Linked DNA regions of Homo sapiens: region 2 is linked to region 1. The links come from fine-mapping of genetic effects on gene expression. Tissue or cell type: ovary. Region 1 holds a variant in brackets; the other region holds the start of a gene. All regions are shown on one strand. Distances are from middle to middle.

The links. PIP is the estimated chance that this variant, and not a neighbour inherited with it, causes the effect.
Region 2: it holds the start of CEP290, and the variant in region 1 is fine-mapped to the expression of CEP290 in ovary (GTEx, PIP above 0.99). The same link has a PIP of 0.9 or more in ileum.

The regions. Positions count from the first base shown.
Region 1 is chr12:88,104,970-88,110,306 of GRCh38, reverse strand. CEP290 (centrosomal protein 290) reads left to right here. Exons shown (of 54, transcript NM_025114.4): 23 at 1,126-1,241; 24 at 3,209-3,311; 25 at 3,402-3,632. Among named protein-coding and RNA genes, the nearest start is that of CEP290, 34 kb to the left of the region's middle. The variant T/C (reference allele first, on the strand shown) is at 2,612.
Region 2 is chr12:88,138,969-88,144,147 of GRCh38, reverse strand. It overlaps CEP290 (centrosomal protein 290), which reads left to right and starts at 2,060. Exons shown (of 54, transcript NM_025114.4): 1 at 2,060-2,248; 2 at 2,814-2,942; 3 at 3,115-3,192; 4 at 4,584-4,653; 5 at 4,957-5,003. The coding sequence starts at 2,841. It overlaps TMTC3 (transmembrane O-mannosyltransferase targeting cadherins 3), which reads right to left and starts at 1,841. Exons shown (of 14, transcript NM_181783.4): 1 at 1,661-1,841. RefSeq lists enhancers at 1,471-1,974, 1,781-2,220.

The DNA.
Region 1 (5,337 bases):
GTTTTGCTGTCTATATAATGGTCGTTATGAATGTCCTAATGACAGATCCTTTTCATTATTTTATTTGAAATTTGACTATCTATAACATCACATACATTATAAATATAATTACAAATATATGTTCAGAATCAATGAAAATATATTTTTGATTATATGGGCCACTATTTCTCTCTGCTAGGTGATCCATTTGTGAGTATACTTGAGTTATAATTATTAAGTACTCATTTTTATTTTGGAAATTACAGTAATTCATCTTTTTCTCAATATTGGGATTTTTATTATTATTTTATGTTGTCTAAGGACAGCCTTAACTACTTATTAGAATATTGCTTTGTATGTGATATTATTATTTTTAAATGTATAATTTTAACATTATTATTTCTCTTATTTACCTGAGGTATAGGAACACTATCAGCAAATATTGGTAGTATGGCATTGTCGTATTTTTTGAGATAAAATTCATGATTTTTAATCTTTGTATAAGAAATATATCAGAAGTTTGTAGTAGATTAGAGAGTACCAACTGGGAGTCTGAAAAGCTGTCCAAAGTGGCAAAACAGGTACTTAGACTCTCAATCCTAAGGCTGTATAGAGCTATAAACGTGGCAAGACCTTTGGAGTCAGACAGACCCAAACTCAAATGTTGGATCCATGTATATGGAAAGCACCTGACAACAAGCCTAGCATATGTACTTGGTAAAAATGATTGCCAAGTGTAGTGTTAATGAGTTTTTGGATATTGAGTAAGTTATTTAAATTTCAATTTCATCTTTAAAATGAAATAATTGGAAAGGATAATTTGAGTGAGGGTATGAAATTATGTGTTCATAAGAGAGGGTATGTGGCCGAGTGACTAGAGGCGAGTTTATAACTATTCTATCTAATAAAACTTTGTAATCTGGTAATTTGTGTGCTAAAAATAACTTTACCTGTTGTATAGTACTCTTTTTTTATGCCTTAAACTAAAGTGTTCAAAATATCATGGAAAAATGATCTGTGTTGCTTACAGATTTGGTGACTTTTAACTTTCCTATAATGTTGTCAGAATATGAATTTATACTTTCAAATTCAGCATTTATTCTATTGTGTTTTTTTTTGCATTCTTATTTCTAAACCACTTTTCAGGAACTAGAAAATAAAGAAAAAAAGTTAAAGAATTTAGAAGATTCTCTTGAAGATTACAACAGAAAATTTGCTGTAATTCGTCATCAACAAAGTTTGTTGTATAAAGAATACCTAAGGTATAGGTATTAGCAAAACTATAAATATAATTGCAGTATATTCTTGTTAATTGTGAAAGTAACGTAAGAATAATTTATGTTTTGTTCTTCCCTTCTTCTTCTTCCTTTGCAATTGTATTTTTTTTTACTCTGGTAACTACTGTTAGGAACTTATTTATGGAGACAGTGTAGCTTAATGATTACATTAAGCCTGGGATTATCCTGCCTGGGTTTGAGTCATTTAACGTTTGCTTTTTGTAAGAGCTTGAGCAAGTCATCTTACCTATCTGTGTCTCAGTTTCCTTATCTGTAAGTTACTTTGTAAGTAATACCCTTTTCATAGGATTATTGTAAAACGTAAATGAATTATTAGATGAAAATGCTCGGACTAGTGTGTGGCACATATGAACAGTTTGTAAATGTTAGCTGTTGTTAGCATCATTCATCATCATCACAATCATCATTGTTCATATATGTTTATAGGGAACTAACATATTTCTCCTTATTTCTGTCATCTCATCTAAATCAATAGAATGATTTCCTTAATAGGAATTAGAATACCTAATCAAAGGTGATTTAAACACTAAGAATAATTATTATCTGACCTAACCAGAACCACAAAGCTAGTTGTAGGGCAGGTCATATTTGAAGGTTGTTGTTATCGCCTATGATGGTTGTAAAATAGCTGCATGAATTCAAGAAAGATGATGTGCCCATTGAAGAAGAGGAGCATTTTTTTCTACATAGCTTTTATTTTTAAATAAACATTTTTTTCTGGTGATACCTGGCAGACATTGACTCCGATCTCATTTGCTAGAATTGGATCACATGTCCAAGTCTGAACCATTCAGTTGCAAAGAGAATGATACCGCTATACTGGGTTTATGCCAAGAACATTACACATGTTTGTGGAATGCTCATGTGTAGACAACAGTGTCTTACACAACTTCAAAAAAATAATTTATATATAAATATGTTTTAAATTACTTTTTAAATTCACAAGAATTTATGGTATACAACATGGTGTTCTATATATGTATATACTATGCTATACAACATGGTGTTCTATATATGTATATACTATGCTATACAACATGGTGTTCTATATATGTATATACTGTGGAATGGCTAAATCAAGCTACTTAACATATGTATTACCTCGCATACTTTTTTTTTTTTTTCCTTGAGACAGAGTCTTGCTCTGTCACCCAGGCTGGAGTGCAGTGGCGCTATCTTGGCTCACTGCAACCTCTGCCTCCTGGGTCCAAGTTATTTTCTTGCCTCAGCCTCCCAAGTAGCTGAGATTACAGGCATGTGCCACCACGCCTGGCTAATTTTTGTATTTTTGGTAAAGACGGAGTTTTGCCATATTGTCCACGCTAGTCTCAAAA[T/C]TCCTAGCCTCAAGCAATCTGCCCACCTTGGCCTCCCAAAGTGCTGGGATTACAGCATACTTCTTCTTATTTTTTTTTTTTTTTGCACTAAGAACACTTAAAATTTACTCTCTTAGCAATTTTAAAGTATATAATATACTGTTATTAACTTTGGTCACTATTTTAATTAGACTTAAGATGTGTTTGTATTCAAATTATTTTGTAAGCATTTAACACCCAAATTTGAGAGTGGGGTCAGAATGTTGGAATTTGATTTCTAGAATTAGTATAGGGTATTATTTTCCTACTTTTTTTCTGTGTTCAATAAAATGTTTATAAGATTCAGCTTCAATTATATTATAACCCATTTAGTGGTGAATCAGGGAAGAATGAAAATAATTTGATAACTTTGTTGCCTTGCATTTATTTAAAAAATTTTTAATTCTAGGCTAAACCCTTTTTAAATGAAAGTTTAACTTCTTGTGTTTTCAGATACTGAATAGCTATGATACCTCTTGTGTTGAGAAAACTTTAAATTTGCATAATCTGAAGTTATCTTTTCTTATAAACATTTTATTAGGTTTACAGTATTGTCTTTTTGTTTTGTTTTGTTTTTAGTGAAAAGGAGACCTGGAAAACAGAATCTAAAACAATAAAAGAGGAAAAGAGAAAACTTGAGGATCAAGTCCAACAAGATGCTATAAAAGTAAAAGAATATAATGTAAGTAAAACATTTTTAACATTAGTATGCAATATTGTACAAAGTAGGATAGCTAGATTCAACAAGTAATATGGATGTGTCTTTGTGCAGAATTTGCTCAATGCTCTTCAGATGGATTCGGATGAAATGAAAAAAATACTTGCAGAAAATAGTAGGAAAATTACTGTTTTGCAAGTGAATGAAAAATCACTTATAAGGCAATATACAACCTTAGTAGAATTGGAGCGACAACTTAGAAAAGAAAATGAGAAGCAAAAGAATGAATTGTTGTCAATGGAGGCTGAAGTTTGTGAAAAAATTGGGTGTTTGCAAAGATTTAAGGTACATCTGATTCTTATTTTGCTTTTTCTGACTATGAAAAATTTCAAATATGCAGAAGATAGGATGGTATCAATAATGCTCATCACCTGAATTAATAGTTAACATTTATTAACATTTTGTCATAATTGCTTCTTCTGATTTTTGTGGGATGTTTGAATTGCAGACATTCCTCCCCTAAATATTTAATGTACCCTTTTGAAAAAGGCTTTTTTCTTTAACTAACCATAGTAACTTTATTATACCTAACAAAATGACAGTAATTTTCTAATATCGCCTAATACCCTGATTATAGTCACATTTTTTACATTTTTTGATCAAAGAATAAGCATTTGGATGTTACATCTCATAAATCTTTTTAATATAGAATCCCCTTGGTTTTCTTTTTCTCCAAAAAATGTTTGAAGATGTATCTAACTTTTGTGTGTGTGTCATTTTACTTGTTCCTGTGTCCCTTGTATTACTAAAAGTTAGGTCAGAACCCTAAGTTACATTCAGGTTTAAACATTTTTGGCAAGAATACTTCATAAGTAGTGTTCTATACTTTATATTGCATCACTTCAAGAGTATCTGGTTGTTCCATGTTTTGTAATTGATTACTCTGTTAAGGAAAAGACAAGCAGACCAAGTATGGTGGCTCATGCCTATAATTCCAACATTTTGGAAGGCCCAGGCAGGAAAATTTCCTGAGCCCAGACCAGCCTAGGCAATATAGTGAGACTCCGTCTCTACAAAAAATGTTTTTTTTTTTGTTTGTTTGTTTTTAATTAGCTTGGTGTAGTGGCACATGCTTGTAATCCCAGCTACCTGGGACATTGAGGTGGGAGGATCGCTTGAGCCCAGGAAGTTGGGGGCTGCAGTGAGCTGTGATCATGTGCCACTGATCTCCAGCCTATGTGCCTGTATAACAGAGCGAGTCTCTCTCTTAAAAGAAAAAAAGAAGAAGAAGAAGAAGAAAAGATAACCATATACCTCCATTATTAAGCAATTTAGCTAACTGGTGATATTTTGGTACCATACAAATAACAAATTATTTGTCAGTCCTAATGATTTTAGCATCTGCTGATGATTGTTGCCTAACCCAATTATTAAAAGTTGCAAACATCATAATTTTCTAGTTATATTATGCACTTACATTTATTAACAGACATGCTTTTGTAAAATAAATAGCGTTTCCTCATTAGCCCAGGCTATTTGTTTATCTTGAAGTTTAGCTCCTACTACAAAGGCAAGATAAATGCTTTTCTCTTTAATTACCAGTTTTCAGAATACACACTTGGTGTACTCTGCACTACCTGCTTTTTTTGTCCCCTCCGCTTTCTCTTTTTTAAGTATCAGATTAGACTCACAGATTTTTAAATATTCCATGTGTTTTAGTTGGAGTCATATTCTTTTGTCTCAACTTTAGCCAAAGAGAGTCCTTTAAAGTTGACTCTTATATTGTCTTGACAAAAATTCATTAGTCTTTTGAACGAAGCCTCAAAGCTTGACTTGTTTTCTAGCATAAGATGTCTTAGACTTACCTACATACTTCATGCCCATACTTGGAATAAACCATTTCTTTAAAGAGCCCAGGTTCCTTTTAGTGGGGAAGGCATTTAGATACCAAAAACTGGCCACTGGGCATCATTGCTCTCAGAGTATCATTGCCACTAGTCTCTCAGTAGACAAGTTAGAAAAATATGTATATATTTAAACCATGAGTTCA
Region 2 (5,179 bases), 34 kb before region 1:
CATAAAGACTTTGCTGATAAAACAGCATGCAGTAAAGAAGCCAGCCAAATCCCACCAAATCCAAGATGGCGAGAAAGGTGGGACGTCTGCTCGTTCTCACTGCTCATTATACACTAATTATAATGCATTAGCATCCTAAAAGACACTCCCACCAGTGCTATGACAGTTTACAGATGCCATGGCAATGTGAAGAAGTTACTCTATATAGTCTAAAAAGGGGAGGAACACTCAGATCTAGGAATGGCCTACCCTCTTCCCAGAAAACTCATGAATAACCCACCCCTTGTTTAGCATATAATCAAGAAATAACTATAACAATCCTTAGTCTACCACCTCCAATGGGGGTGTATGCACCTCCAATTCTTTCTTGGCGAGATCCAGGAGCCCTCTCCTGGGGTCCAGATCAGAACACCTTTCCAGAAACACCATCCCATGTTAAATTATGAATTAAGAACACTGAACATGAAGAATGTTTAATTCAAATTATTGAGTAAACACTTACAAAATTAAAATATAACATTTAATAAAAATAGCAAGATTGAGGAACAAGCACTTCACAAATATTGGTTTCCCAGAATGTCTGAGGAGGTGTATAGAAGTTAAGAATATGTCCTCCAGCCAGAGAGATCTGTGTTCAATCACACTATTTAAGTTACTTAGCTTCTCCAAGCCTCAGTTTCTTAACTCAGATGGAAAATGAGGACAATGTAAGCACCTATTTCACTGGATTGTAAGGAAGAATAAACAAGATAATGAATAGTATTTGGCATATAATCTTTCAGAAAAGTAGTAAAATTGTCATTCCTATAAATCTAACTAATGTCTTTAAAATTCATCTCACAAAATCAGTATCTTTTTATTTTGTACTGAGCTACTTATTTTACCCAAATTGGGGGTTTAAAAAGAAACTCATTACTTATTTTCGAAAGGAAAATTTACTGTCAAGTACAGTAATTTTTTTTTTAAAGCAGCGTTTAAAAAAAAAAAAAGACAAAGCACTGGTCCAGATAGTTGGAAATGTCATTTAGATTTAAGTCTACAGCTTCTTAGGAAAGTTAGGTAGAGATGTATCATACTCCAGCATGATTGTGAGCAGACGAGCAGGATGAGCAAAACTTGCACGAGTAAGAGTGGTAAACACCAGAGAAGGCGCTTTCATGGAAGGGCACCCTAGGTAACCAAGCAAGTGGCAACAATAGTACAGGTGAGTCCTTGGATCCCTTCTCTCTCCACCCCCGGCAGTGGTCCGGACAAGTACTAACCTCTCCTCTCTAGAGCCTTGACTTTATACTAGCTCCACAACCATCAAGCCCCACGATCCGCGAAAGGAATGGTGCTACAGGTAAGGCGGGCGGGGTCGGGATGCCGAGACCTCTTGTCAATTCTTCGCTCGCCCCCAAACGAGGATCACGGCTGCGCGGCTCTCACTCTAACTATCAAGACAGATTCTGATACTAAACAAGGCTAAAACTTTTTGTTTTTTCCTTCTTACAGAAGGCACTACCCTGGACGCCGCTTGCAAACGCCTGAAGAGAAGGCAGGGTGTTCCCACTTTTTCAGAATGGGACCAGGCCCTACGGCCCCAATAGCAGAAGCTTCTCTAACCCAGGACTGCTCCCCTCAATTCCTCCCAATATGCTGACCGACAGCTCGACCTCACCTGGGGGCGGTTCCGCCAGGGGATGGCTTAGGAAAACCTCAGGAAGAGCAGCCCAGCGAGTGACGCCACTGAAACCACAGTCATGGTCTACCTCGTTCAGGCCACCAGTTTGCAGGCGCCTGAGCCGCTGCTCCTCCCGCCTCTCGGTCCTTCCCCGCCGCCCCGGTACCGTCGCAGTCTTACGCGTTGCATGCCGGGAGCGCCTTACCTCCTCTTCTCAGGGACTTCAGTTCCCAGCATGCAGAAGCCTCAGGCAGAACTGCACTCTGGGATTTGAAGTCCTCGTTCCACGCCTTCTCATCATCCTGAACACCGAGCTCTGGGACTCCGGCGGAGAATCTAAACGTAAAGCATCACCCACGGTCGTGAACTGTAGGCTCTCCTGGCATCCGGGATCTTATTCTGGCCTTGGCGGAGTTGGGGATGGTGTCGCCTAGCAGCCGCTGCCGCTTTGGCTTGCTCGGGACCATTTGGCTGGACCCAGAGTCCGCGTGGAACCGCGATAGGGATCTGTCAGGGCCCGCGGCCGGGTCCAGCTTGGTGGTTGCGGTAGTGAGAGGCCTCCGCTGGTTGCCAGGCTTGGTCTAGGTGGGTGGATCCTTGTAAGCAGGATTAGCGAGTCACTCCACGCTCAGGTTCTTTAGCCTGAGGGCCCGTGTGCCACAGCATAGCTACCCCGCCCTTCCAGCCTCGGGTCCCTAATACTGCCTTGCTTCGGTTCCAGTTTCCGCCGCACAACTTCACTCATTCCAAATGTTAATTTCTGCGTTTTTTTTCAGCCCCAATTCTGTTTCTCCAAATCAGGGATGATTGTCGGCCTTCCACAGACCCTCGCGCTTGCCAGGATTAGGGTGTTCGCGCGCATTGTGGGTAGGGGTGTGGAGGAAGGGATCCAGAAATCTTAAGTATTAACTTAGATTAGTGTTAGCAAGGAAGCCGTCACATTTTATTTAGCCGGGACACTCTGACAGTTTGTGCCGACTGCTATTTTTGATCAAGGCTATTTTGCCCACTTGTCTATTTTGTGGCCCAATTGTCTGTTTTGCTAACATCAGAAAGTTATAATGAAATAATCTGCAAAAAATGTAAGGTGCTAGAAAACCAATAATACTGTGTACCTTGAAAATGCTAATATACACCTGTTTTGTTACAGAGGTGGAGCACAGTGAAAGAATTCAAGATGCCACCTAATATAAACTGGAAAGAAATAATGAAAGTTGACCCAGATGACCTGCCCCGTCAAGAAGAACTGGCAGATAATTTATTGATTTCCTTATCCAAGGTGCTTAATTGGTCAATAATAATAGATATATACATTAACTTATGATTAATTTATTAATAAAATATGAATTTATTTTTTTCAGGGACAACTATAATTGTCACAATCTGGAAGTGTTCTTATATTTTGCTTGAAGGTTATAAAATATAAAACAGTTGCTTTTCTGTTTACTTAGGTGGAAGTAAATGAGCTAAAAAGTGAAAAGCAAGAAAATGTGATACACCTTTTCAGAATTACTCAGTCACTAATGAAGGTTTGTATGTAGTAGGTTTTAACTATAGGTTTGGCTATTAGTGGAACTATAAAAATCTGTTCTTATATAAGGTAATCTTTGTGAAAATACCTGGTAATATCTACATCACCACTAAAAAATGCAATATATTTAAATGTGAATTAAGTATTTTAGTGTATAAAACATTGCTAGTTTCTACTTAAAGTTTCTAAAAGGGTGTGTAGGGGAAATAGAATGAGTATGTTGAAAAGTAACATAAGGAAATATATCTTGAGGTCCAAATGACAAATGCAGACAATGACTGCTATAGGGATTTGTTAAGAGGGGAAATGATTTAAGAGATGTCAGAAGACTTCACAAAGGATCAATACTGAGGAGTAGTGTTAGATAAGTGGAAGGCAATGCAGTGGTAAGATAGTAAGGGAATTCTAGAGCTGTTGGTTACCATAAATAAATACTGAGAACAGGAAATATGTTTATTCTTTATATTTGAGGAAACAAGGTGCAGCAAGTTTGTAGCAGACTGTAGAGAAAACAAATCTTGGGTAAGTACTTTGAGATAGGTTGTTGAGGGCCTTAAAGGTGTATTTTATGCTATCAGCAATTGAGAAGGCAGTAAAGGTTTTCGAAACACAATTGATAGGTACAAAAATACACCTTAAGAAGGCAAAACTGAGTATATTATGTAGGACAAACTGAAGGAAATTGGAGCTTTGTAGACATCACATTATAGCGGAGTTTAAACCTGAAATTATGGATTAGAATAATAGCAATTGGAACAGAAAAAAAGTAGTGGAAAGACATTACAAAGGGAGATGTTGCATTACTGGATATAAGACTTGAGGACTTGAGGTAAAAAGGAGAATCAAAAATGTTTCATGCTATTAAAAATCTAGAAATTGTAGTCTTAAGTAAGAAAATTGCCTGGCATGGTGGCTCACGTCTGTAATCCCAGCACTTTGGGAGGCCAAGGCAGGAGGATTGCTTGAGCCTGGGAGTTCAAGACTAGCCTGGATAATATAGTGAGTCCTTGCCTGTACGAAAAAATTTGCCGAGCATGATGGCACACCAAGCATGATGGCACGCCAAGCATGATGGCATGCACCTGTAGTCCCAGCTACTCAGGAGACTGAGATGGGAAGATTGCTTGAGCCCAGGAGGCAGGAGGTTGCAGTGAGCTGAGATTGTGCCACTGCACTCCAGCCTGGGTGACAAAGTGAGGCCCTATCTCAAAAGCAAAAAAAACAAAAACAAAAACCAAAAACTATTTATTCAGCAAATATTTACTGAACGTCTCCATGTGCCAGCCATTGCTGGCACTAAGGATCATAACAAATAAAACAGAATTTTTATTTTCAGTGCTTACATTCCAGTATAAAGGCATATTGAAATAACCTTTTTTTAATGTTTAGATGAAAGCTCAAGAAGTGGAGCTGGCTTTGGAAGAAGTAGAAAAAGCTGGAGAAGAACAAGCAAAATTTGGTAAGCACCTTGGAAAAAGTTTATTATGGTATTAAATAATGAATTCCATTTGTTCATTAAACTGTAGAAAATTAAATTATATTCTATAAAATATATATATTCAGTTTATTTTTAATATATAACATTTAATAATAAATATTTCTAGACTCCTATTTTATGGATCTGCCATATAATACTTTTTGTTACCTTATAATCATGATGGACTCTTTTAAAAGAATTAATTTTGTTATTGAAATTTATTTAAAAGTTTGTTTTGTGGTAACTAATCAATTAAAACGTTTTTCTTTTTTTTTAAAAAAATAGAAAATCAATTAAAAACTAAAGTAATGAAACTGGAAAATGAACTGGAGGTATGTCTTTTTGTATTCCCTAGGATGTAATTGTCATTAATTTTATTTTGAATTGTTTTCAAATTTTAAAATTATTGTTGGCTGGAAAAATTATAAGGATGATTGTAATCATGGTTATTTGTTTATTCTGTATATGTTCTACATGCCTATTATGTGCCTTATATAGTACTAAGGAC